Homo sapiens: one gene and its partners. The protein of the gene in region 2 interacts with the protein of the main gene of each other region in a pairwise test. Each region holds a gene or a part of one and is shown on either strand. Other genes may lie near its edges. The genes, in order: TLE5, OLIG3, SPRED1 and KRTAP3-3.

Region 1 (7,710 bases), on a different chromosome or scaffold from region 2:
TGGCGACAGAGCAAGACTCCGTCTCAAAAAAATAAAATAAAATAAAAAAGAAGTTTCACTCCAAAGCCTGCATTTCTGGCCTTTCTTGAAAAATAGGATGGTCTGGCCACCCAGGGGCTGTTACGCCTCGAACATCCGGTGTGTGCCTCTGATATGGTAGGGTCCCTCGTTGGACAGCAGGAAGCCCAGGCCCAGCGGATGGAGACCCCAAAGCTCAGAGAGGGCTTCCGGCTTAGCAGAGGTCACACAGCACTGTGACCGCCATCTGATCCCTTCCCTGTGGAATCAGGTCAGCCCCGGGGCTCACCAGGCGGTATCCAACCCTTCATATCGAGGAACCCGCACAAAAGCTTCTGGGGCCTGCATGGAAAGCTGACTCCAGCACCTTCGACTGTCAGTGTCTCAGTTTGCCCAGCTTGAGAATGGGTACGACAGTCGGACGACAGGAAGGATGAAGCACGAGGAGGCACGAACGGTCTTGAGCACACAGGGAGTACCCAAAAAGGTGGGATATTTGCAGCAGCAACAACAAAATCGAGATTCCCCTTTCTACTTGGAGGAAATCCAGGATCCTTCCAGGAACACTTCTGGGGTGGGCACGCTTCAGTTTAGAGAGGGCCCCAAGGCCAAACGGGGGTTTGAGCATAGCCTGACTTTCTCCAGATTCCCAGGCCCGGCGTGCCCCTCCAGAGCAGGGCAGGCGAGAACCTATATCCTTAAACCAGGAGAGAGACCTGGTGCAAACCTCAGCCTTGCCACTTCCTCAATGCTATGGACACCCCCGAGGAAATAACATCATAACATCTCTGGGCTTAAGTTTCTTTTTTTCTTTCTTTTTTTTTTTTTTTTTTTTTTTTGAGACAGAGTCTCCCTGTTACCCAGGCTGGAGAGCAGTGGCTCCATCTCTGCTCACTGCAACCTCCGCCTCACGGGTTCAAGCAAGTTTCCTGCCTCAGCCACCCGAGTAGCTGGGATTACAGGCGCCCGCCACCACACCCAGCTAACTATGTATTTTTGGTAGAGACGGGGTTTCACCATGTTGGCCAGGCTGGTCTCGAACTCCTGACCTCAAGTGATCCACCTTCCTCGGCCTCCCAAAGTGCTGGGATTACAGGCATGAGCCACCACGCCTGGCCTGGGCTTAAGTTTCTTTAAGTGTAAGAGGACTAAATAGTTCCTTCCCCTTAGATACCGCAGCGTGGCAAGCTCTTCAGAAACGCCAGATTTCTGAAAGAAGCAGCACCTTGGAGAATCTGACGGGTGCTGGGAACCCTTTCTCCAAAACTGGGCAAAGAGAGAGATGACCAGGCTGCAGAATGTTTCTGTTTTGGGGGTTGAGGGATGGCGAGTCCGTGCCGTAACTCCAATTGTTGGAAGGTCTTTTATCCAATGGGGGACTTGGGGGTATTGGGGAGGAGGGAGGGGCTCTGAAGCCACACAGCTGAATCTTTGGGCAAATTATTTAACTATTTTTGTGCCTCGGTTTTCTCCTCTACAAAATGGGGCTGTTTAAAATAAATGAATTCAGTATTTGTCAAGTGATTAGGTCAGAGTCTAGCATATATTATTTTCCCAATCTCCAGGCCTCAGCCTTGCCATCTGCGCAGAAGAAATGGGGGGACTCACATTCTCGGGACGCAGGGACCCCCAGTCCCCCAGCTCACCTGTGGTACTGAGCTTGCAGTAGCTGAAATTCGTCTTTGATGCGGTCGCAGGAGTCCGAGGTGGTGAATTTGAGTTGCTGGGGTAGGTGCGAGGAGCCCTGTAGGGATGGGGCGGCCCGGGTCAGGCCCAGGCGTGGGCTGGACCCCCCTCAAGGGCCGGCTAGGAGGGAGCGGCCGCGCAGCTGCGGCGCCCCCCCTCCTGCCCCACTTCCTGGGCCCGTGTTTACGGCCCCTGGCGCGACCCCACCCGCGCTTCCTGCCCCCCGCCTCTCCCGGGGGAAGCCGAGCGGGTGGGTGCGCCCGGAGCCGCCCCGTCCCCCGCCACCCCCAGGCAGTGGGGGTGCGTTTTAAGGCCCGCCCTAGATGGGGGGCAGGGTGCGCCCTCTACCGCCCTCCAAAGCGCCGGGAGGGAGTGCACATCCGAGGGGGGTAGAAACGCGCCCTAGGGAGCCCCCTCCCCAAGTTGGGGGGCAGCGATTCCTCCCTGCAAAGTCCTCTTGGGGGAGGGGTCTCTCTCTCGGTGCTCGAAATCTTCCGGGGGGGCCCAACCCCAGATTCCCAGCGCCCTTCCTCGGGGACACGCTCTTCCGGGAGGGGTGCGCCTCGGATCACCCCCCCCACCACAGGCCCCCAAAGGATCCCCGGGCTAGAGGTGCCTCGCGGGGCTTCCGGAGCGCCCCAGGCCCGAGGCCAAGGCCGTCCGAGGCCCTGACTGTCCCGGCGGGTTGGGGGGGGGGGGCGCCAAGCCGGGAGCTGCGGCGGGGGGGCTCGGGGCCCGGAAGCTGGGGTGGATCGGGAACTGGAGGGGGGGTGTCCGGGGGCCGGCGGCAGGAGGGGAGGGGGGTCGCGCCGGGCTGGGAGCTGGAGAGGGAAGACAGGGCCGGGGAGTTGGGGGGGGCGCCGGGCCGGAGGCACCGGGCCTGGGGGTTGGGGGGCGCGGGGCCGGGAGCCGGGGGTCGGGGGCGTAGGGCCCGGATCCGGGGTGGGGGCGCCGGCCGGACGGGCCCCGCTTACCGAATGCCTGCTTTGTGGAAACATCATGTCAATCGCGGCGGGGGGCGCGGGCTGCGCCCCGGCTGTGCGCCCCGGCTCGGGCTGCTGGGGGCGCCGGGCGGCCGCGCCTTTGTCCCGGCGCCGATCGGCAGCTCCCGGGGCCGCCGCCGCCTCCCGCGCCCGGCCTCGCCCGCTTCCTGCGCCCCCTCCCCGCGCGCCCGGCCCCGGCGCGCCCCGGGCCCCGCTTCCTGCGCGCCCGGCGCCCCTCCCCGCCCCTCCCCGCCGCCCGCCTCCCCGCTCCCCGGCCCCACCGCTATTGTCTAATGGCGGCGACGCCGGCAGTGGCCGCGGCTCGGCTGCTGCGGAGGCTTCGGCTCCACCTGCCGCCGCCCGTGCCCCGTGCGCGCCGCCGAGGGGGGGGACGCGCGCGCCCGGGGAGGCCTGCGGATCCCCACGCCGGCCCGCCTCCCCGTGGCCCGCCCGCCGCGGTGACCTTGGGCCCGGCCCGCCCCCGCCCCGGGCAGCGGCCCCCGCCACCCTCTCCTACCCGGCAGCCGGCCGGGCCTCGGTTTCCCCATCTGTCAAAGAAAAGGGACCCGGCTGCCCGCGTCGAAGCCGCCGGCCCTGCTGTGGCACGACCTGGACGCGTGCCACGGACGTGCTCTGTGACCTTGGCTCTGGCTGGGCGGTGGTTCTTGCTGAGCCTTAGTTTCCTTTTCTGCAGAAAGGCAGCGGTAATGCCGCCTTCCTGAGGGAAGCCATTCTTGTGACACATTTATAGAACGCCTACTGTGTGCCAGGCCCCGCTGCTCCAGGGCCCTGGGGTGGGGCGGGGCGGGGGTGGGTCCCTGCCCTGGTGGTGGTGCCTGGAGACAGACAGAGACAAATTCACAAGCTGAATTCCTGGCAGGTCAGATGGTGGGGACAGTTCTGCAGAAAAACCAGCCGGGAGAATGGCAGGGTAGGAAGGTGCAAAGTTAAAGAGGTGGGAGGGAGGATCAGAGACGGCTTCCTCCACCCCTAAAGCGACCTGAAGAAGGAGGGAGAACAGGGGGATGGGGTACAGAGGTAGTCAGAGGCAGGACCAACAGGTGCAAAGGCCCTGGGGCAGGACTGTGCCTGGCAGCAGAGTGCCCGGGGGGAGGTCAGGAAGGCCGGAGGGAGGCAGGGCCGGGGGCTTCGTGCTTTTGTCCAGGGCCCCCCCACCCCACAGCAGGGCTTGTGCTTGGGTTAATATTTACTGCTGCATTTTGAGATTTCTAATCATTTTTGAACAAGGGGCCTTTGAGTTTTCTTTTGCACTGGGCCCTGCTAACTCTGTAGCTGGTGAAGCAGGCCAGTCCAGCAAGGACTTGTGGGTCTTGGGGAGGACTTGGGATTTTGCTCTGAGTGAGGTAGGAGCCCTGGAAGGCTGTGGGAGGAGGAGGGACGGGACCTGGTGGTTGGTTGGTTTGTTTTTTGAGATGGAGTTTCGCTCTTGTTGCCCAGGCTGGAGTACAATGGCACAATCTCAGCTCACCGCATCCTGGGTTCAAGTGATTCCTGCCTCAGCCTCCCGAGTAGCTGGATTACAGGCACGTGCCACCACGCCCCGCTAATTTTGGAGTTTTAGTAGAGACGGGGTTTCTCCATGTTGGTCAGGCTGGTCTTGAACTCCCGACCTCAGATGATCTGCCCGCCTCGGCCTCCCAAAGTGCTGGGATTACAGGCGTGAGCCACCGTGATCAGCTGTTTGTTTGTTTTTGAGATGGAGTCTCACTCTGTTGCCCAGGCTGGAGTGCAGTGATGTGATGTTGGCTGACTGCAGCCTCTGCCACCCGGATTCAAGTGATTCTCCTGCCTCTGCCTCCTGAGTAGCTGGGATTACAGGTGCGCATCACCACGCCTGGCTAATTTTTGTATATTTAGTAGAGACAGGTTTCACCATATTGGCCAGACTGGTCTTGAAATCCTGACATCAGGTGATCCTCCCGCCTCCACCTCCCAGAGTGCAGGGATTACAGGTGTGAGCCACTGCGCCTGGCCCTGGACTTGGGCTTTTGCTCTGAGTGAGGTGGGAATCCTGGAGAGCCGTGGGAAGAGGAGGGATGGGACCTGGTGGCGGTTATTAAAGGATCCCTCTCTCTGCCACGCAGAGAACAGGTCCCAAAGAGGCTACTGAAATAAGGCTATGACATTAAGGTCCCCCTTTGGCAGGTGCGAAACACAGTCTCTTCATCATCGTCATCCACTAGGCAGCCTGCTCCCTTGAATGAATGCAATTGATTTGGGCCTTGGGTGTTCCCATCTGTAAAATAGACTTGGAACCCCAGGCTCCTTACCTTGGCAGGTAAGGGTGATAGCCTTCAGTGATCAAGATTAATAATCTTTAAAGCAGTGTTTTAATATTTTTATTAAAAAAAAATTTTTTTTTTGAGGTGGAGTCTCACTGTGTGGCCCAGGCTGGAGTGCAGTGGTGCCATCTCGGCTCACTGCAAGCTCCACCTCCCGGGTTTATGCCATTCTCCTGCCTCAGCCTCCCGAGTAGCTGGGGCTACAGGCGCCCACCACCACGCCCGGCTAATTTTTTGTATTTTTAGTAGAGACGGAGTTTCACTGTGTTAGCCAGGATGGTCTCGATCTCCTGACCTCGTGATCTGCCTGCCTCGGCCTCCCAAAGTCCTGGGATTACAGGCGCGAGCCACCACACCCGGCCTAAAAAAATTTTTTCAGACACAGTCCTCTGTTGCATAGGCTAGAGTGCAGTGGTGCAATCATAGCTCACTGCAGCCTCCCACTCCTGGGCTCAAGTGATCCTCCGACCTCAGCATCCTGAGTAGCTGGGACTACAGGAGTGCACCACCATGCCCAGCTAATTTTAACATTTTTTGTAAGCCGGGAGCAGTGGCTCATGCCTGTAGTCCCAGCACTTTGGGAAGCCGAGGCCAGTGGATCACAAGCTCAGGAGTTCGAGACCAGCCTGGCCAACATGGTGAAACCTCGTCACTACTACAAATACAAAAATTACCGGGGTGTTTTGGCGGGCGCCTCTAATTCCAGCTACTTGGAGGCTGAGGCAGGAGAATCGCTGGAAGCTGGGAGGTGGTGGTTGCAGTGAGCCAAGATCGCGCCACTGTACTCCAGCCTGGGTGACAGAGTGAGACTCTGTCTCAAAAAAAAAAAAAAAAAAAAGATGAGGCTAGAAAGGATTAGGATTTTGGATTTTTAAGATTACTACTACTTGGTGGCCGGGTGTGGTGGCTCACACCTGTAATCTCAGCGCTTTGGGAGGCCGAGGCAGGCGGATCACCTGAGGTGAGGAGCTTGAGACCAGCCTGACCAACATGGAGAAACTCCGTCTCTACTAAAAATACAAAATTAGCCTGGCATGGTGGCTCACGCCTGTAATCCTAGCCACTTGGGAGGCTGAGGCAGGAGAATTGCTTGAACCTGGGAGGTGGAGGTTGCGGTGAGCCAAGATTGTGCCACTGCACTCCAGCCTGGGCGACAAGAGCGAAACTCTGTCTCAAAAAAAAAAGAAACAAAGAAACAGAGATTAATACTACTTAGTAACAGCCAAGCCTTCAACCAACCGCAACACCCTTGTTTTTCCTGCAGGGCCCTGAGAGACTGCGTTCCTAGACTGCCCCTGAAGCCAGTCCTGCCGCTAGCACCCCTGCCACCCCACCCCCACTGCCGTGGGGACCAGACACCCCCTCTCCTGGGAGGCCACCTGCCAGTGTTTATTTAGGCAGGCGCCTTCCGGTATCAGTGTGCCCGCCCAGTGACCAAACAGCCCCATTTTCGAAGCCCCCACACTGTCAGGGGAAGCAGAACTGGACACAGATACCTTGAGCACGGTGAGGTGAGGGCTGGGCCACCCACAGGGACCTAGGCCTGTGAAGGAGAGAGTCATTGTGAAATCATCGTTTTTAGAAAATAGGTTTTTTTTCTGCATAGAAGGCAGCCCAGAATGGTGGCCCACACTATAAATAATCAACCAAGCCACACAGGTCTGTATGTTTTTGCTCCGCACCAGGGGCTGCCTTAAGCACTTTAACCTTTAGGTACAGTTGTCACACCCATTTTAGAGATGGGGGGAAAACAGGCCGGCAGGGTGGCTCAGGCCTGTCATCCCAGCACTTTAGGAGGCCGAGGCAAGCAGATCACTTGAGGATCAGGAGTTTGATACTAGCCTGGCCAACATGGCGAAACCCCGTCTCTACTAAAAATACAAAAATTAAGGCGTGGTGGTGGGCGCCTGTAATCCCAGCTACTCTGGAGGCTGAGGCAGGAGAAGCGCTTGAACCCGGAAGGCGGAGGTTTCAGTGAGCCGAGATCGTGCCACTGCACTCCAGCCTGGGCGACAGAATGAGACTCTGTCTCCAAAAATAAAAAATAAAAAAAAAGAAAACGAAAAAAAATGGGGAAAGTGAGTCACAGAGAAGTGAAGTGACTTGGCCAAGTGGGTAGGGGGCAGAACCACGATGTTATCCCAGGCCTTTGATCTTGACCTTGGGCCTTTGAGCACTCTGCAGTGTGGCTTCTGGCCGGGACACGATGGCAGCACGTGCTGCTGGGCTGAGGAGCTGGGATTTTACCTGGAGGGCACTAGGGAGCCACAGGAGGTTTTAGAGCAAGATTCTTCAGTTAGCGCCATCGCATTCCACCCTGGGCGACAGAGGGAGACTCCATCTCAAAAAATAAAAGTAGATTGCATCAAAATAGTGTTTATCCTGATGACTTAGGTATTTGGCATCCCCTTAGCTTTTTTATTTTTTTTTGAGACAGGGTTCTTACTCTGTCACCCACGCTGGAGCGCAGTGGTGTGACTTCGGCTCACTGAAGCCTCGACCTCCCAGGCTCAAGCAATCTGCCCACCTCAGCTTCTCGAGTATCCGGGATGAAAAGCGTGTGCCACCACGCCCGGCTAATTTTTGTTTTTCATAGAGATGGGGTTTCACCATGTTACCCAGACTGGTCTTGAACTTCTGGGCTCCAGCAGTCTGCCCTCCTGGGCCTCCCAAAGTGCTGGGATTACAGGTGTGAGCCACCACGCCTGGCCCCTCTTAAG
Region 2 (6,819 bases):
GGCTATTCCTTGTTTGCACATGAGGAAACATAGTTAGAAATGTTTAGGTTTCCTTTTTTTGTTCTGTTTTGTCTTGGAGGGTGGTTGGGTTGAAAGGTGAAGCCCACAGGGCAGCCTCCCGCCTTTCGGTCTCGGCCAAAGTTTCTGCTGGTCAAGTTTGCTGCTTGATGAGCGAGAGGAGCCCCTGGACGTTGCTGATTGACCTGCCTCTCACAGTAGCTCTTCGGCAGGTCAGCTAGCGACATTTGCTACTGGACTCTTGCGGGGGTGGGGGTGGGGGTTCGCTCCTGAGCCAAAATCGCCGCGGCCTCAGGCAGAGCCGGCAGCTGCTGGAGAGGAACTCGGTGGCTAAGGCTGCGGAGCAGTGGGCGTCGGGCACCGAGCGGCGCGCACTGGGTGTCAGGTAAGAGACGATCCCTGGTGATCTGGGAGGCACAGGGGGGTGTTGAGCACAGCACAGCTTCCCGAGTGCGCGGTCCCCGCGGAGCGCCCTGGGCGCGCGGGTACAGCAGGACGGCTCTTCTGCCCCGGTCCACGCGCCGACCCGCTGTTTTCATATGTTGTAGGAAGGCTGAGAAACTCCAGGCTCTTCTCAGAGCCAAGACAGGCTTGGAGGGAAGTAGCCTGCCTGCCTTGGGACGCACCTGTTGCCGGAGAACGATCCCCGCCTCCGCGGCGCAGCCCGCCCCAGCCGCGAGGGCGCGGGGTGTGGCCCGAGAGAGCGCAGCCCGAGCCACCGCAGCAGGGTCGCTCGCTCCGGCTCCTCGCCGGTCTGAGCCCTCCGAAAGGGGTCTCGGCCAGGGCCAAGGTCATGGTGCGTCTCCGGCTGAGCCTCTGTAGGCTGCTGCAGCCTTGGCCAGGCGGCGACTCCTTTACTCTCTCCTTCCGTACAAGTCTGGGGTGGGCGTTGGTAGTCAGCCCTCAGAAAGAAATCCGTGTGCCTGCCCTCCTGAGCTCCGGGCCTGCTCCTTCTCGGGTTCAGGGCTCAATCCGAGGAACTGAGCTGCGGTGGCGGGGGTCGAAAAGAGACTCCACGAAGCAAGACGTGCGGGGCGACTCAGCCTTTTGGGCCCCGGCGAGTATTAACCCATTTTACGGTAAGCAAAGTTGTGGCACCTTTACTCACTCCCCTCGTCTAGTTGTCAAGCCCCGCAACGGATGGGAAGTGGGGGAACTAGCTTCTAAAAGTACTTACTGGAAGGAGGCCCTGAACCTTGGACCACCCACACTCACGCATTACGGACCTTCGAAAAAGCAGAGGGTGACCGAGGAGCGGAGGGCGCGCCACGTCCCGGCCTCGGAGCCAGGGAGTCCCGGCCTGGTCCCCGCAGATCTCCCATTTCAGGCACCTCTGTTACTGGAGCTGAAAACCCTTAGGGAAGAAGGAAGGGAATGTCCTGGTCTGTTCGGGCAAAGGCCCAGTCGCCCCTTCCCGGCCCATCGCAGCCCCCTCGGAACCGGCTGCGGCAGGCGTCAGCCCCCTCTCGGCTGAAAGGCTGTGCTGAAGGAGAGTGGCTTCTGGTTTGGACTCCCAGAACCCTGGCCCCGGACTTCCAGCCCCGCAAGCTTGTATTTCGAGGGCTGCTCTACCCTCCTTCCCTCCCCTCCCCCCGCCCACGGCTTGCCACCTTCGTTACTAATTTGGGGGAGATTTTAAAACTTTATTTTACATTGTCCACTGGGAAAATCAAGACTTTTTTTAAAGGGTAAAATATCTTGTAGCAACATGATTTTTCCACTCCTTCATTTGCAACCCTTCTGCTCTGACCAGACAATTCTACTTCCCCAAATCAAAACTCAGGTGCAGCGTTTTCAGTCTGGGTGTGGGAAGGACAGACGCCGCCGACGACCTAGGGTCAGGGAGGTGGCTCAGGAGGACGGCGGGGGCCAGACCTGTGCACCGTCCGCAGGGCGGGGAAGCTGCTCTTCGTCCAGTCCAGTGCTCGCTCCCAATGCCCTCCCCCGTCCGCCTCTCTCTCCTCACCCCATTTGATCAGCAGGGGAGTCGCAGAGGGTTGTCGTTAGGACTAGCCACTAGCTTCCTCCCATCACCTGGGACTGCACAAGTTCTGGAGCACTTCCCCCCTCCCCTCCTTTTTTAAATAACCAGGAAGACTTAGTGTATGTCACTATCTTATTGGCGAGTCTGGTGAATTAAGAAACATTCTTTATGCTTGGTATTAGGAATGCTTTTGGACATTAGTCTTTCCACATCCAATCTAACCTCTTGAATTAAGAAACTTTCCTTCCACCGAGATGAAGGTGGTAGAAGAGGCTCCTGTCCAATCTGCAAGAGCACTAACTTCCTGGCCTTGACGAAGGGCTGTTGGCCATTTTTCCCCCATTACAGAAAAACAAAATTCGGTGTAGCAAAAGCATCCATGCCAATGTTGCGTTTGCCCATCCTTCTGGTATTGGCCAGAGCTGCCTTCGCAGCGTGACTGTCAGTGGGGCACAGCCTCAGAGCGTGCAAACTCCGGACCTGGGCGCGCATCCCTCTCCCACTGACCGCTCGGTTTGAGTCAAGGGAAAGGGGGGCATCCTGTTCTTCGAAGTGACTCAGCGGCGCAAGAGGCCCCAAGTGCCCGAGGTTCCGCGATTGATTCGATTTCACACTTCCACCGAGACTCTCAGTCACTAGCTAGCGTTTGTTTCCCGTTCCACCAAGCCGGGAGAGGGGCGGTGTCCGGGTTCTTCTAGAGACCACTCCTGGGGCTCTCTCCCTTCCCGGGATTTCTGCCTTCCCGCCCCTCGTGCTGCTGAGCTAAAGTCTTGATCACAAAAACACAGCAAGGGGGAAGAAAGATCTACGCCCACCTCCGCACTCGCACCGAAGGCTCCAAACTCCGACCTCCTCTTTATTCCCAGAAACGACTCTGCGCTGAACCGCAGTGCCCGGGCACGCACAAGGGGCTTTCTAGGTCCTTTCGTTGTTTCCCTTCCCCCGTGCTTCTTTGCCCACGCACCCCACCCCCCCGCCCCACCACCCCGACATCAGATAGTTTATTATGAGCTTCTGATTTCCCTGTCCGACGCCGTACGGCGGCCCCAGCCTGGTGGACCCACCCGCGCAGGCCGGGGTGCCGCTGAGTTCCCGGAGCTCGGGGCACGTCAGCACAGCGGCCAGAGGAGGCCCGGCGGAGCTTCGGGCGCGGACCGTCCCACCGTTTTGCGCCAGCGCCAAGGTCCAGGAAGCCTGGAGTGGGAACAATCTCTCTGGAGCTCTCAGGAACCTAACAATCTCTCTCTCTGCCTCCTTGGCTCCTTTTCCTTCCCATCCTCCCAAGTTGCTTTTCTTGTGACATTAACATTTTTTTTTCGCAGTTTTTGGTCTAGGAAGTTAAAGAATTGTGCAAAACTGAAATTCTTTTAGAAATCCATGTTTTAAAACGAAAGAGAGGACACAGAAAATAAGAGACCTCTCCGCCACAATACTGCCAGGAGCAAAGCCATCACCGAACATGGACATCCCGTTGAAACCACACCAGAAGGGCCCAATAAACAAAATTGACAGAATGGAAGTGTTTAGGAAAAGAGATCTAATGAAAAAAAAATATTGAGACAGAGAAAGTCGGCATGCAGTCTTCCCACCACCCCCAGCCCCCGCTGGCAGCACCTTCCCTCCGACCGCACCTCTGTCCCTCAAACCTTTCCACTGAGACCTATTTTTGCCCATATTTCTCTAAACTTGGGAGCAGCCAGGAAAGAAAGGAGAGCGAATGTTTCAATTCCTCTCTCCAAACTCAGAGGAACCTCCACCAACCGCCTGGCCACCTTCTCTTGCCTTCCTTCCGTTCCTGATGTGTGATTTGGTTAGAGAAATTGGGAAGGGGGGTGGGGTGGAAGAAAGTTAAAAAAAAAATCAGGAAGGCGTAAGCTGGAGCGGTGAGTGTGTCAATCAGAGGGTTTTGTGCCTGGGGGCTCCTAGCGGTTCGGAGCAGAGGTGTCCCAGGGCGGCCCCACAATGAATATGAATAGGAATCCTTGCTAAATGGGACAGCAAAGCGCACCGCCCTGAATGATGGCACGTCATCCTAACCAGCCCAGGATAGATAGGAGGGCTCCTTTTGTCTCTTTTCTCCGCCGCAGCTCTATAAAAGCCCCTCTTTTTCAGCGTGAGGTTAGTTCAAGCACACACCAACTAGCTGTCCAGGAAGCAGCCTAACCAGAGAGAGGGGCGTGGGAGGGAGAGAGGCGGGGAAAAGCAGCGTCTCCGCTTTTCTTCTCACGTCTTGCCGCGGAGAAGTGGGTTCCTGGGCAGTGCAGATTTTTTTTTTTTAATTCAAGATTTTCTTTAATTTCCCGCCTAAAGCCTCCCCACGGTAGGGCCGCATCCCCTGTAATAAAATGAATTCTGATTCGAGCTCTGTCTCCAGCAGAGCTTCATCTCCGGACATGGATGAGATGTACCTGAGGGACCACCACCACCGCCACCACCACCACCAGGAGAGCCGTCTCAACTCGGTCTCGTCCACGCAGGGCGATATGATGCAGAAGATGCCCGGGGAAAGCCTCTCGCGGGCTGGCGCCAAGGCCGCGGGAGAGAGCAGCAAGTACAAAATCAAGAAGCAGCTGTCGGAGCAGGACCTACAGCAGTTGAGGCTGAAGATCAACGGACGCGAACGCAAGCGGATGCACGACCTGAACCTAGCCATGGACGGGCTGCGCGAAGTCATGCCCTACGCGCATGGGCCGTCGGTGCGCAAGCTCTCCAAGATCGCCACACTCCTGCTCGCCAGAAACTACATCCTCATGCTCACCAGCTCCCTGGAGGAGATGAAGAGGCTGGTTGGCGAGATCTATGGGGGCCACCACTCGGCCTTTCACTGCGGGACCGTGGGCCACTCGGCCGGCCACCCCGCGCACGCGGCCAACTCCGTGCACCCGGTGCACCCCATCTTGGGCGGCGCGCTCTCATCTGGCAACGCCTCGTCACCGCTGTCCGCCGCCTCACTTCCCGCCATCGGCACCATCCGGCCTCCCCACTCGCTACTCAAGGCGCCCTCCACGCCGCCCGCGCTGCAGCTGGGCAGCGGCTTCCAGCACTGGGCTGGTCTGCCCTGCCCCTGCACCATCTGCCAGATGCCGCCGCCGCCGCACCTGTCCGCTCTCTCCACAGCCAACATGGCCCGGCTGTCGGCCGAGTCCAAGGACTTGCTCAAGTGAGCAGCGGGCGGGCCCGGCTGCCAAGGAGGAGGGAGAGCGGCGGGAGGGGCCGCGGTGCCGGGCCGGGAGGGAAGAGGGAGGCTGCACGCTCGGCCCACGGGAGGGCAGGCTCCGGGGCCCGCAGCCTCCCACGCTGTCTGAGAGATCTCAGACTCCACTTGACCCCCGGAGGGAAAGGACCAAAATCAAACCGCAATTTCTAGGTGGTAGCAAAGGGGGACTCGAACCAGATGTCGTGTGTTTTGCATGCATGCTTCTTTTCCCCATGCCGCGCCAGTATTTTTCACTGCCATATGCTCTTGTCAAAACTGCATTTGTTGTATAAAGATGGGATCGGTGTAGTTAAAAACTTGCGAAGGGACTTTTGAGTTGGCTTTCTCTGACTCTGTGTTCTCGCTTTGGAAAAAGACGGCCATCCCTTTTGTGCAAAACAAATGTAAATATTTTCTTGAGATGGATGCGATTATGATTGTCTCTGTCCTTGCCACAGTTTTTCTAGAGACAATGGAGAGAGAAAGAGAGAGAGAGCGCGAGAGAGATCAAGACCCAAGTTTTGAATCTCAACCGAGGTCCAGGGCATGACACCTCCTATGTGGGTTTTCCTTTCGACGCAGTGTAGGTCAAAAGAATGCATGCACGCTTCTAAATGAATCTTGTCTGAATATGTCGTGCAGGCTGTGGTGCCGTTTTCCTTGTAACAAGGATTTATTAGTGAATTATCCCAAGTACTCCATATATCTGTCTGTGGTTGTATGAAATGAAAAAAGGGGCAGAGTGCAAAGACCCACACTCACGCACACGCGCTTCTTCTCCCACCCCCACCCCCTTCAAACTTTATTCGGAACCTTCCTTTGCTGTTCTGGGGCCGCTATTGTAAAAGCCTGGGCTCCCTCTAGTAGCTTGCGCCACCCCCCCTCGCTCAGTTATTCTGCATGCGGGGTTGGCTCTCTCTATTATCAGCTTTGAAAACTTATCCTGGTTTTGGGAGGGGTGCCGTTTTTATTTTCCTGAACATTTGCTTGAAATATTTTGTTAGGGCCTCAAAGACGATACCTGTCTTTATTTTTTATATATTCTTGATAACTATGATATATTTATTAATAACCAGTGTTTCTGGATGAGATTTCAAATAAAAAAGAACCTTTAAATCGTGGCTTTGCCTTTGCCTAAAATCTTAGCAGATGGGGGTAGTGGGATAGGAAACACGTGGACCAGGTAAGGTGTATCTGGGTGAGGAATTTGGATGGGTGGGCAGATGTGAAGGTTTTCCGTGATTACGTACAAGTAAACAGGATGGGTAAATTGGTGCTGATTTTTGGAACTAAATGTCCTTCAAGCGGGCATTGCCCACATTCATAGTATTATGCTATTTGAGCTCATTTCTCTGCAGTAATCAGACCCTCATAAACTCGAGAATTGAATTTTAAAAAGTAATCTGGAAACTTAAAGTGGCAGGAAATGAGAGGTGGAGTGTCACTACGATGACTGTGTTGGCAACAAACAAGGATGAAGCAGTACGTTAACTTCTTTTCACTTTAAATTGAACTTGTGCTTTTCCCCCCATGTTAAAATCTAGTATACATTTTAAAAGTCAACAAAGAGTGGTCTTAGAAAATAGTCAAATACTCACCCTGCTTGCCTGCACCCTCGGAA
Region 3 (7,030 bases), on a different chromosome or scaffold from region 2:
ACTAGATGGTTTTGGCTCAGGGTTCCTCATAAGGTTGCAATGAAAACATGCCACAACTGGTCATCTATTAAGGCTTGCTTGGAGCTGAATAACCTGCTTCCAAGGTGGTTCACTAATATGGCTATTGTCTGAACGCTTCAGTTCCTCACCACATGAATATCTACACAGTGTTGCTTGAATGTCCTTTTAATATGGCAGTTAGGCATCCTCCATAATGTGGGTGACCTCACGCAATTAGTTGAAAGGCATAAGAAAAAAGATTGAGGTCCTCTGAAGAAAATAGAATTCGGCCTTCTCATGACTGCAACATCAACTTGTGCCAATTTTCAGCGTGCCTGCCCATTCTGCCAACCCAGCCCACAATCTTATGAACCACTTCCTTAAAAAAGAAAAAAAAAACCCCAGAAACTTTACTTTCTATATAAAGATTGATATCTCTTATCTGAAATGCTTGGAACCAGAACTGTTTCAAATTTCAGAATATTTGTATGTGCATAATAAGACATCTTAAGGATAGTACCCAATTTAAAGATGAAATTTATGTTTATACACCTTATAACACACAGGCTGAAGGTAATTTTATACATGATTTTAAATAATTTCGTGCATGAAACAAAATTCTGACTGCATTTTTAGTGTGATTCATCACATGAGGTCAAGTGTAAATTTTTTCTACTTGAGGTGTCATGTCCATACTCAAAAAGTTTCGGATTTTGGGGCCAGGCACGGTGGCTCAGGCCTATGATCCCAGCACTGTGGGGAGGTGGGTGGGTTGCTTCAGCCCAGGAGTTCGAGACCAGCTTGAGCAACATAGCAAGACCTTGTCTCAAAAAGAAAAAAAGTTTCAGATTTTGGAACATTTCAGATTTTAAATTTTCAGATGAGGGATGCTCAACCTGTATTGGTTCTTTTCTTCTGGAGAAATCTGACAAATAGAGTGTCTTAGAAATATTCTTAGTAATTGATAAGTTTATTGAATAAGGCTAGTGATTTCTTCCACATCCTTTATGTTTACAAATTCCTTCCAAGCCATTACTTACTTGTAAGTCATCTGCCCCTTCAGCTTCATTTTTTGATTCGGGGCATCCTAAGAAAATAGATAAAAGTTAATTAAGTATAGAATTTTTGTCTTAGAGTCCAGTATTAATGACTAATTGATTATGTCATTATAATACTTTAGAAGACTAATCAGAGATCTTTCTGGACTGCCTGGCAATTAAGGTACTGGCCACTTGCATTTGCCCCTGTTAGAATAATGGAGAATAATGTAATTATTTCCCTCCTCTATAGGTAAATTTCCAGCTGCTTACTAACGAGATGTTTTCTCTGAAAGTATACTATCTCTAGCTACCCCTGCCCCTAGTTTCTCCCAAATACTCAAAATTACTAGGCAGATTATAATTACATTGCTCTGGTGATGCTAAGATGTGATTTATTCAATTTTTCTAAATGCTTTGACCCAGGAAACAGTATTTAGTACCCATAACCAGGATTTTAGTTGCTTTAGCTAAGATGGAAAACAAATGAGTTTTAATCCACTATTGACAGTTAATGGCCAATTGTTGTTACTGACTTTTTTGCATCAACGTCTCTGTACAGATTTTCATGCTGTTAAGAGTACCTTTAGTTTCAATAAATTAATAAGAAAGGATTTGTCCTAGCAAAGTACTCTTAGTTCATGCTACCCTTGAGAGGCACAGCTTAGCACGGAGTAGGCATGAGATAAGAAGAAATGCGCCCTTTGGAAAGAGCAGCATATTTTATCTTTTTGTCACAGAAGGTCGAGTAAAAGCAATTTGAGATTGTTGAAAGTCTATATAGCAGCTGATAATAATGCTAGCTAATGTTTTTTAATGTTCAAAAATAACAAGGCAGACTAAGTACTGTAGTCTACTCTACCTAGAAGTTTGTAAGCTACTCCTTATAAATCATTTTTTAAAACATTAAACCCAATCTGTTTGATCCTAGTGAAAGAGGTATACTGTTATGGTACATGAGCATAAACTTAAAAGTAATTCAAAACTTTAAATCATATAAATTCCAGCAGCCATGGATACTATTTTTCTCTCTCTTTAAAGCACTGGTTCTTCAAACCTGGCTAAAGGTTAGAATCAACTGAGGAATTGTCAAAAAATACACTGATGCCAGAGTATGGCGTCAAACCAAAATATATCAGAATCTCTGTGGAATGAGGCACAGAACATCATGTATTTTTTTTTTTAAGTTTCTTATTTTTTTTTCTTCAAATTCAAATTACAATTCCTTGACTAGAGAACAATTCTTCACCATATTTGAACTTTCTTGGAGTTTTTGAAAAATAAGGGATGACTCGACTCTATTCCCCAGATAGATTCAATTGGTCTGGAGTGCAGACTAGTCATTTTAAGCTTCAAAAGCTTCCCAGGTGATTTTAATGTGTAGCCAAGGTTAAGAACACTGATCTAAGGAGAATTTATGGGGTCTTACAATAAAGACAAAATGGCTACTATTACTTCATAGTAATTTTTTCTGGATCAGAATAAAAAATTACTCATTTACCAAATTCTAATCTTTTAAAGTAGCTAAATAAATTACTTAACTACAGTTTTATGCACTATCAAAACAGATTTGTACAATGTATTTCCATGTTCTTGCCTGTGACTGGTCTCACAGTTTATGTTTTCAGATTTTCTTATTAAAATGACATCTTCAAAATAACACAAATCACAACGTAGTCTAGCACACTTTCAGTTACTTTATATAGAAAGTTAGTTAAATTGAAATAATTTTCCTCCTAATTAGAAAAAAAAATCAAGTCTTAGTTCTTCCTTTATGGGAAGAAATGGGTTTTAATGTGATTTTTGTTTAAGTAAGCATAAGCCAGTCTTACATGAAAAAACATTATTCTTCCCTTCAAAACCTGTATGCTTTTGAGTTAATAATTTTAATAGACTGGCAAGATAACAAAGGAATAGATGAGCTTGTGGTCTCTGCCAATCCTCAATAATGAAATCAATCAAGTAAAGACTTTTGTCATGGAATAACTAGAGTCTACATACATTTGAATATTACAAGTTCTATATAATTACCCAAAAAAAGGATGTGACTGGTGTCATACATACACAAGTAGAATACCAACTGGGATTCTCGCAGCTGTACATTTCTATTCCCTCTTCCTTCAAGCTCTTATTTTAAAACATTTGAATTATCTGAAGTCAGCTGTTGATGGACTCTTCAAGATAATACATGCAATTGACATAGACTATGATGTGACAAATACAAATCACGTTAAGGAATCTATTATTTTATCTTCATCTATTGTGAGGTTTCAAAGCCTGGTCACATATCACAAAAGCTGACATGGTTAAAGTGTGAAAACTACTTTGGGTCAACTTTAAGAAAGATAACCTCTACTATATATAACCGATAAATAAATTAAGAAAATAGTCAAGAATACCTACCTTGAGAAATATCCTCTATAGCTCTTCGGATACCTCTATCAAAAGCCCTAGCATCAGCAGGACTTTGAAACGTAAGACCAAACTTCTTGTCATCAATCTTCCAGTGGTGAAATGTTGGAGTGACCTTATTATAAATGAGGTCTTTTTTAAGCATACATTCCAAAACCACCTGACAAAAGCCAAATACCAAAAATTAATATACATATATCAAATGCATCTAATGTAGCTCATAAATACAAACTGAGGTGATACAACGCTATTACTTTTTAATGAATAATTTTTAGTATTTTAAATAAAGTGGTCTACTTCACAAAGTCACTCAATAAAGAGATTAAGATGGAATAAAAAAATGCACATTATAAACAGGATGCTTATTATACTCCCATTTTAAGAATACACACATATATACACTCCCATTGCATACAAAATTTCTGGAGGAATATATCAGGAATTACTTCCAGGAAACAGGCAGGGGGTTGGTAATAATAGAAATTTAACTTTTTAAAGTCATTTTTGGCTGGGGGCAGTGGCTCACACCTGTAATCCCAGCACTTTGGGAGGCCGAGGCGGGCGGATCACTTGAAATCAGGAGTTTGAGACCAGCGTGGCCAACATGGTGAAACCCCATCTCTACTAAAAATATAAAAAATTAGCTGGGTGTGGAGGTACATGCCTGTAATCCCAGCTACTCAGGAGGCTGAGGCAGGAGAATCGTCTGAGCCCAGGAGGTGGAGGTTGCAGTGAGTTGAGATCACGTCACTGCACTCCAACCTGGGCAACACAGTGAGACTTTGTCTCAAAAACAAAACAAAACAAAATAAAGTCATTTTCCTAAACTTCTTAAAAGACGTATTTATATTTTGTGTAAGGATTTAATGGTCACAGCAGTAAAACAAATACACTTGGCCACTTTTTCAAAATATGCATTTAAGTGAGTTACCTAACTTTTGAAGCCTTAGTTTACTCATCTGTAAAACAGAAATTGCAGTACTAAAATATCCCAGAGCTTAGAGTGGAATGACCGAATGTGCATTCATGTTAAGAGCTTCATGCAATGCATGAAGCAATATACCCTTGGTTTTTAAATTTTTTATTTTGAAAGTATTTCAAATTTGTAGAAAAGTAACAAGAATAACACAGAAAATTCCTGTTTTCCCTTTATCCAGATTTATCACATTAATTTTTAACATTCTCTCCACATATATCCATGTATAAACATTTAATTTACTTTATTATGAACTATTTCAAAGGAGTTACATATATTATGTTCTACTGCTCTTTAATACACACTTGAGTATATTTCCTAAGTGCAATACTATTCTCTTATGTAATCACAGTATGGTGATCTCATTCAGGAAATTTAAAACCAACACAGAACTTTAATCTATAGACCATGTTCCATAGACCACGTTCCACTTTTGCCTACTATACTAATAACACCTTTTAGAGCATTTTAAAAATCCTTCCAGTATAGGATCCATTCCAGGACAGTTATAAGGTCTCTTCAGTCTTTCGTTCCTGGGCCTGTCTTTCATCATATTCACAGTATGCTTTTAATATATGTTAGTTGTCAAATAAAACAAAAGTGGATATATTAGTGATCTTTGCAATTAATCTAATAAAAAGACTAGAACTACACACCTTAATTATTTTAAGAATCCCCTATAAGAAAACAGGAGGAAAAGAATTAAAAATAATTCAAATGAAACCCATAGTAGCACATGACACATAATAAATGCTCAGCTGGTATTTGGTGAAAGGTTGTATTTTCATTACCTCCACTCTTTTCCAATCACCATTATCACTTGCACATCTCTTCCATGCACTGCTGATGATCCCCTCAGATATTACTAGTAGTAGTGAATTACTAATAGTAATTGCACTACTCTGCAGGTAGAGTAATAATTTTTCTTAAAAAAAAATAGCAACTTTACTGGACCACTCCCTAGTTTCAATGTCTTTTCAATGCTTTCAAGACTAAAATTCTTACTATGACCTACTAGGCCCTGCATGAGCTGGTCTTTGTCTGTTTGCCAAATCCTTAAACTACAGTGGCAGACAAACATTAGGTACTCAACCAATACTTCTCCTCAGAAATCTTTTAGGCTTTATGCACTTCCCAAGGAACTCATTCACAGATCATGGACTAGGAATCTCTAATTTATACTTTTGGAGGGGAGGTCTGCTAGAGTCTGCTTATACTGGCTCCCAAGAGCCAGATATTAAATTTTCAAGAATTTTGGAAGCCATTGTTAAAAGCTAGAATATATAACTCTACAATGAAATAAATTGCATTAAAAATAAAATAATAAATACACAAAACTCATCAGTTCCTAATTATTTTACTATATTTTTACAATTACCTAGGTTCTTGAGGTAGTTTATGTCTGTCATATCTGTACGGTGGAAATACTATATAATGCCACACTGCTGCTCATTTCTTCCCAATGCTATATGCAATGATGGCATGTTGAGTAAAAGCAGCCATGGTAGAGGTATGTAAATGCTATAAATCATTGACTTGTGTCCCCTCTTGAAAGCTGATTGTTAAACCTTTTATCAGCATACCACTGAATATAATAATTCTTGGTAGTAAGTTTTATTAATTCAGAAATAACCAAAAATGTGACTAAGGTTCAGTCCTGCCCGTTTATAGGCAATGCAGTGAAATTCTCTCAAGACTTTTGCTTCCTATACTTTGATGACTCTATGTGTATTAGAAAAGAATTAACCGCCAGGCACAGTGGCTCACGCCTGTAATCCCAGCCCTGTGGGAGGCTGAGGCGGGTGGATCAACTGAGGTCAGGAGTTCAAGACCATCCTGACCAACATAGTGAAACCCGTCTCCACTAAAATACAAAAATTAGCCGGGCGTGGTGGTGGGAACCTGTAATCTCAGCTACTCGAGAGGCTGAGCCAGGAGAATCACTTCAACCTGGGAGGCAGAGGTTGCAGTGAGCCGAGATCATGCCATTGCACTCCAGCCTAGGCAGCAAGAGTAAAACTCTGTCTCAAAAAAAGAAAATAATTTACATGTATCCAGAGCTTTTTTGAGTCGGCACTTTGCTAAAGCATTTTACACAGATTTACTATTAAATATTTGTTACAACCATTTTGCAACAACAACAACAATTCACGATTAAGTTCTAGAATTCAAGGGGAAGTAAATGGTAGTGTCATAAATTACTGCAACATTTATACTATATTCATAAACAGTGGGAAAAGCAGTATTTTGTAAAACAATGCTAAATTGGAATTGTTAAAAAGGGGAAGACATAAAAACAGTTTGATTCTAGTTTTTTAATATATAATAATAACACCAAATTAATTTTTAATACATGAAAATATTACTGAATTAGCCCCCTCTTCTATTTTACAAAATTAATATTTTCAACTATTAACTCTCAAATAAAATTTCAATGTGATCTACCCTAATCTTGTCTTCAAATGGCATCTATTGTTTAGAGCCTCCCAACACTCACAGAAAAAGTAGTTTTAAAAATAAGTTCAAGCACTATTCACAATAGCAAAGACATGGAATCAACCTAGGTGTCCATCAATGGTGGATTAAATAAAGAAAATGTGGTATG
Region 4 (5,357 bases), on a different chromosome or scaffold from region 2:
TTATTATAACACAGCAACTGGCATTCGATAATTATTAACCGTAGGAAGAAACAAATGGATGTTGTGTTTGTATTTGCTTCACCTGCCAGATGGTTAGCTTATTTTCAGCAGAGACAATAAAACACAGGACACACAATAGACATTTAATAAATCTTAGTTGAATAAATAATGACATTATTATATTTTTTTCATAAATAGATCATGTCACCTGGATTAGTTTATATATTTTGTCATATTTGGTGTTTGGGTAATGTTCAGTATTTCTCAACCTGTCTGAAACCATTTTTTGGGAGGACAAGTCAGGAAAAGTCTACTTTCAAATATGCCGATGTACTAGACCATCTTACATGCAAGGATGTTTAATTTTCTTAAAACAGCAAGAACAGCAAAATTAAGAAATTTTTGTCCATACTGCCACCATTTTCAGTTTCACTAATGTTTCCAGTTTTTCTTTAAATGCCAATGTTCAGAGTTAAGAAACGCATTTAATGAATGAACAGAAATAAACAGAAGTAATTGTAGACACTTGTGCTATGCCAGAGATGTAAAATTTATTAGGATAATCATGAAGAACTTCCTTAATTTTCAGAAAGATACCACCCAAGACTGAAAACAGAATTCCCAAACCACCCACAGAAAGAGACACTTTAATATGAAGGAATCGAACAGCTTCAGGAAGCTATAGGCATCCACTGATTCAAACTGCAGTTGGTTATAGCTGAATGGTCATTGAAAGTTTCTTGGTCTCTTTTTTTTTGCAGGGGGTGATTGTGGTAGTACCATCCTTGTTCCAATTTCTAAAGCAGAGTACATTAGTTGTAGGTACTGAGATAGGTGAATGCTAAAGCTTCTATGTTGACTTTTTCAATCTCAGGCACTGAGCAAAGTAGCCATCCATTAGCAGCCTCTTGGGAGGCAGGGCTCACAGCAGGGCTGAGTGAAGGTGGTGAGGTTGAGGGTCTCCAGGCCTGGAGTTGGCTGGCAGGAGTTGAGCAGGAAGCAGGTGGGCACGCAGGGCTGAGGAATGTGGCAGGGTGGGGGACAGTTGTCACAGCAGGTGGGCTCCAGTAACCAAACTGTGTGTGGGCAGGTGCTGGGCAGGCAGACTCCACAGCGGCAGGATTTGTCAGAGGAGCAGATGGTGGTGGCAGGCCCGGTGGGGACACTGCAGCCTCGAGAGGCACAGCAATCCATGGCTATTAGAGTCTGTGGTATTTATGGGTTTGATTGAAAAGAAGGATAAGGCTTCTGAGGTGTGAATATCTCTCCTTTCTCTGGGGCTCTTATGTACCCTCTCCACTGGGAGTTGGTCCAGCCAAGAGGCTTCTTTCCTGGTTCTTGTTTATGTTAGTGTACCCATTATTCTTTAATTTGTTTGACATTTAGACTCTGTAAAGAGTCCCCATTTTCCTAATTAACTTTTATTTGAGTTCGTTGCTAAATCTGAACTGATTACCCTTGCTATTTGTCACTGGAACACAAGCTTTATGAGGTATCACCAAAGCCTTCTGTTATTATATTTTCAACACCAGCCCTGCTGGGGAATATTGCATGACAGTGAGTCTGTAATATGTGGGCCTGCTCTCCAGTGCTGCTTTATTTTTAATCTGTCACTTTATCTATACCAATTTGTCTGATAAAGTATTCTTGTTTTAAAGAGTTGAACTTAATTTTACTTTCTTTTAGCTTTGAGGCTTTTGAAGATCAAAATTACATTAACATGAAGAAATATGCCATTAAGAAATATGGAAAAACTTTAAAAAACGCTTATTATTCTAGTTTTTTACTACAAAATATTTTGTATACATTGTTTATCATTACATTACATTACTGGAATCATATTGTGCATAGGTTCTGAAACTTGCCTTTGTGTGTGTGCATATATATTATATATATATATAATTATCTTATATTTTAAAGGATATTTGATAGTGTTACTTTTAATATTTCTTAGCATTTATTATATAATTGCACTTCTATGTTACTTTAAAATTTTATATTATTATGCATTGAGGTTATTTTCCACTTTTCTCTACAATAATTTTGGCAACAGAGCACCTCTGTATGTAAATCTTTGTGCATATTTTTGATTATTTCAGAAACAGAATTAATTATTTGGTAGAATTATAGGGGCAAATGTTAATTTCCAGTATTTTTAAGGCCTTTCATATCATTGCCATACTGTTTTTCAGAATGGTTCTATTTACCTACTTTTTTTTTCAAATTATCTATTTCCACCAGATGTGTTTGATTAAGAATTCCCATTTCGTATACCTTTGACAGATACTTTATTTTAAAGGTGTTTTCCAATTTCATTGGTGAAAAACACAATTTTATGATTGTTGTGTCTGTATTTCTTTTATAACCAGCTAGGTTGAAATATTCCTTCATATGCATATTGGCCATCTGTCTTCTATTGAGAGTTGGCTTGCTTTGTTTCCTTCACTGCTAATTGTGGGCAAATTGAATTTTTAGCTTCTGTCTATATAGACTAAATAAAATAATAACTTAAGAATACAAAACTAAAATTCAAGTAAAATTATTACCAAAGGAAACTTATGAGCCTGAGCTAGATTAATCTGTTGACATTTGATTTCATTCTCTCTCTCTCTTTTTTTTCTTTTTTTTTTTGCAAGGTATTGCATTTTTTCCTGAAATCAAATGTAGCTGTGGTAGGAAAGACCTGGTTCTAGTACCAGTACGCTATTTAGACTGCAGGCATAGTTCAGTGTTTAAGAGGGAGCACAAGGTGGGCTTGTGGCCAATATCATTTATACACCTCGAACCATTTCCGCTCAGCTTGGTCTCATGCTTCTTGCAAGCCATGGTTCTTCTCACATTCTTCATACCTCCTCTTTTAGGCACACCTGTTGAGTGGTGCATTGTGGTGTGCATGTTTGTATGTTTTGGGAATGGGGACGTGTAGTCAAGAGGACCACCTGAGGAGTCAGAATAGCTCTTGACTGTTCCCGGTGCTGCTGGTTATCTTCCTCGTTATGGTAAGTAATTCACTTTTAGGAGCTTCATCCTTTTTCTCTGCGAAATCAGGGTAATAGCATGCATATTCCTCCACTTAGAAGATTATTGTGAGGTTCACATGTGATAAAAAGGGTGAAAGCTCATGGACAACCATATAATGCTATGCAAAAATAAATTATTATCATGATTGAAACAAATTACAGATGAAATTCAAGGCAAGGTAAAGATAAAAGAAACATAGTCAAAAGAAGAAAAGAAAATGAGATGAAGGTAAGTAAGAGAGCAACCTTACAGGAAAGAGCAAACATTTATATTAGTTTATACAAATAAATAAATAAATAAATAATCACATCTACGATTAGAGAAAGTGGTTGGCATATAAATTAACAAACCTAAAAATTTGAAAAGCTCCCTATGGCTCTGATTGAAAGGGAGAATTCATGATATCTTCTGGTTCCTGGACTTTCCCCAGATTTATCTTTGTATGAATGCCTGCCGAAGTGTGCACCCTTTTACTTAGAACTGATTAGTATTTCACTTATTATTTAAAAAGTAATTCAACAGACATTTACTGAGCAGTTACTATGTGCTAGTCACTGTGATAAATGTTGGATTTATAGCAATAAACAAGATAGGCACCATCCTTGCCCTCATGAAGTTTACAGTTTGGTGGAAGAATTTTTCATACACATAACATATTATTATAAGCTGCTGCTATTATACATTATAATAGGAAAGAAAAAGAGTAAAAGACAAAAAATAAAAGAAAAAATTATTTTGAGGGAAACATTACAAAGGAAACATGGCTTGCAGACCCTCAGGATTAGAATTTCATGGCAGAAAGCTATCAGCTTCTTACCTGGGATACAATATTACTTTGAGTTCACCATAAAAGCTTAGAGCAACTATTACTGTTTATGCAGCACATTGTGTTTCTCTAATCATAAATAAGACAAGGTTACAGATTACAAACAGTTGTAATGCAACAAGTTTATTATAATAAGCTCTTCTCTTTTATTGACAAGACTTGCAGCACTTTATTAAAATGTATTTTCTCTGCAGTGGTCTAAGAGACCTGAGAATTACTCTCCTTTGTTTATAAATGATGACAGTGATTCATAGAGAGGTGAGATGATTTGCCTTAGATGGTTCGGGAGCCAGTGTGTTAAAAACTAAATATAGGACCTATTGGGATTGAGCTACCTTTTATGTGGTTAGAAATGGAAGTTTAAACTATGTGTCAGAGATACTAAGCATTTTATTTTTAAAAACAACGCGTATCTTTTTTCTTTAAGTGAATGTAGGAAAAACATGGTGATTCTTGATGAGATGGTAGATTTTCGGGGTGCTAAAAATCTAGACACACACACACATACGCACACGCACACTCACACATCCAAGAAGTCCAGTTTTAATTATATCTTTCTATAGTCAATGGAGGGATCTGGGACAGTGCAGATGTAAATCAAAGATTAATAATGAAAAGAGACAGAAGCAAAACATGATTATATTGGTCTCTTGCTTGAAATATTTCATTGCTTCAAAGTTTCAGTCCAAACCCCTTTGCTTTGAGGAGCCCCTTATGTCTGGGTCTTTGCATTTCTGTCTTCTCTGCCTCACCCTCTTCAATGCATTGTTCATCCAGTCATTCCCAACTACCTCCTGTGGCTTAAAGACACCAACCTTTCCGCTGCCTCCATGATTTATTAAGCTGCTATTCTGTCTGGAACAACTGTTCCCTACCTCTCCTGCTGCCTATTCATCTTTTAAAGCTTAGACTGGATAGCTCAGAGGCTTTCCGTAGCTATTTCTCACCTTTGACACTGAATCACCAAATCAGGGTTTTAGTTATTCTTTCTGTATGCTTGCATGCCATGCTGCTCACCTCCCAGTCACAGCAGAATCCCTCAGCATTGCAATTATTATTATGATAACTTGTCTTTCTTCTTCACTAGATTTGGGAGAGACTTGAGGGCACTTGAGACTTGAGGTAATAGCATTTCTTTTATCTTTTTACTCCTGGCATCAATATGATGCCTGACATAGGGCAAACACTCAGGAAATATGGACAAATGAATGAGTGAATGGACTAGATCTCTTGTTGACAATATCCTCTGTAGTGTCCCATAGACTCCATGGCTGCTAAGTTCTGTTCATTTAAGGTTGAGCTGTAAAAAGCCTATGGAATCCCGTGAGAAATTTCTCTCTCAAGACACTAACAGGTACATTGAGGACATTTTAAAACAAGTTTGTTAAAAAGCATTTGCTTCTCCCCTTCCTTGTCCTACTCTGTTTCTTGCATGTCTTCTTGTGGTTTTATTTCAATGCATTTTCAGATTTTGACTTGTGTCTTTATATATGTATTGTGTATAGATATA

Evidence for each region.
Region 1: the proteins of OLIG3 (region 2) and TLE5 interact in binary tests that used the Homo sapiens proteins (3 or more experiments, as listed by UniProt).
Region 3: the proteins of OLIG3 (region 2) and SPRED1 interact in binary tests that used the Homo sapiens proteins (3 or more experiments, as listed by UniProt).
Region 4: the proteins of OLIG3 (region 2) and KRTAP3-3 interact in binary tests that used the Homo sapiens proteins (3 or more experiments, as listed by UniProt).

What each region holds. Positions count from the first base shown.
Region 1 is NC_000019.10:3,059,496-3,067,205, forward strand, and holds the start of TLE5 (TLE family member 5), read right to left. Parts: upstream 3,001-7,710; 5' UTR 2,706-3,000; coding exon 2,679-2,705; intron 1,763-2,678; coding exon 1,665-1,762; intron 1-1,664. UniProt on the Homo sapiens protein: Transcriptional corepressor. Acts as a dominant repressor towards other family members. Inhibits NF-kappa-B-regulated gene expression. May be required for the initiation and maintenance of the differentiated state.
Region 2 is NC_000006.12:137,491,699-137,498,517, reverse strand, and holds OLIG3 (oligodendrocyte transcription factor 3), read left to right. Parts: upstream 1-4,123; 5' UTR 4,124-4,347; coding exon 4,348-5,166; 3' UTR 5,167-6,319; downstream 6,320-6,819. UniProt on the Homo sapiens protein: May determine the distinct specification program of class A neurons in the dorsal part of the spinal cord and suppress specification of class B neurons.
Region 3 is NC_000015.10:38,318,820-38,325,849, reverse strand, and holds part of SPRED1 (sprouty-related, EVH1 domain-containing protein 1), read right to left. Parts: intron 3,610-7,030; coding exon 3,441-3,609; intron 1,088-3,440; coding exon 1,041-1,087; intron 1-1,040. UniProt on the Homo sapiens protein: Tyrosine kinase substrate that inhibits growth-factor-mediated activation of MAP kinase. Negatively regulates hematopoiesis of bone marrow.
Region 4 is NC_000017.11:40,992,904-40,998,260, forward strand, and holds KRTAP3-3 (keratin-associated protein 3-3), read right to left. Parts: upstream 1,262-5,357; 5' UTR 1,195-1,261; coding exon 898-1,194; 3' UTR 527-897; downstream 1-526. UniProt on the Homo sapiens protein: In the hair cortex, hair keratin intermediate filaments are embedded in an interfilamentous matrix, consisting of hair keratin-associated proteins (KRTAP), which are essential for the formation of a rigid and resistant hair shaft through their extensive disulfide bond cross-linking with abundant cysteine residues of hair keratins.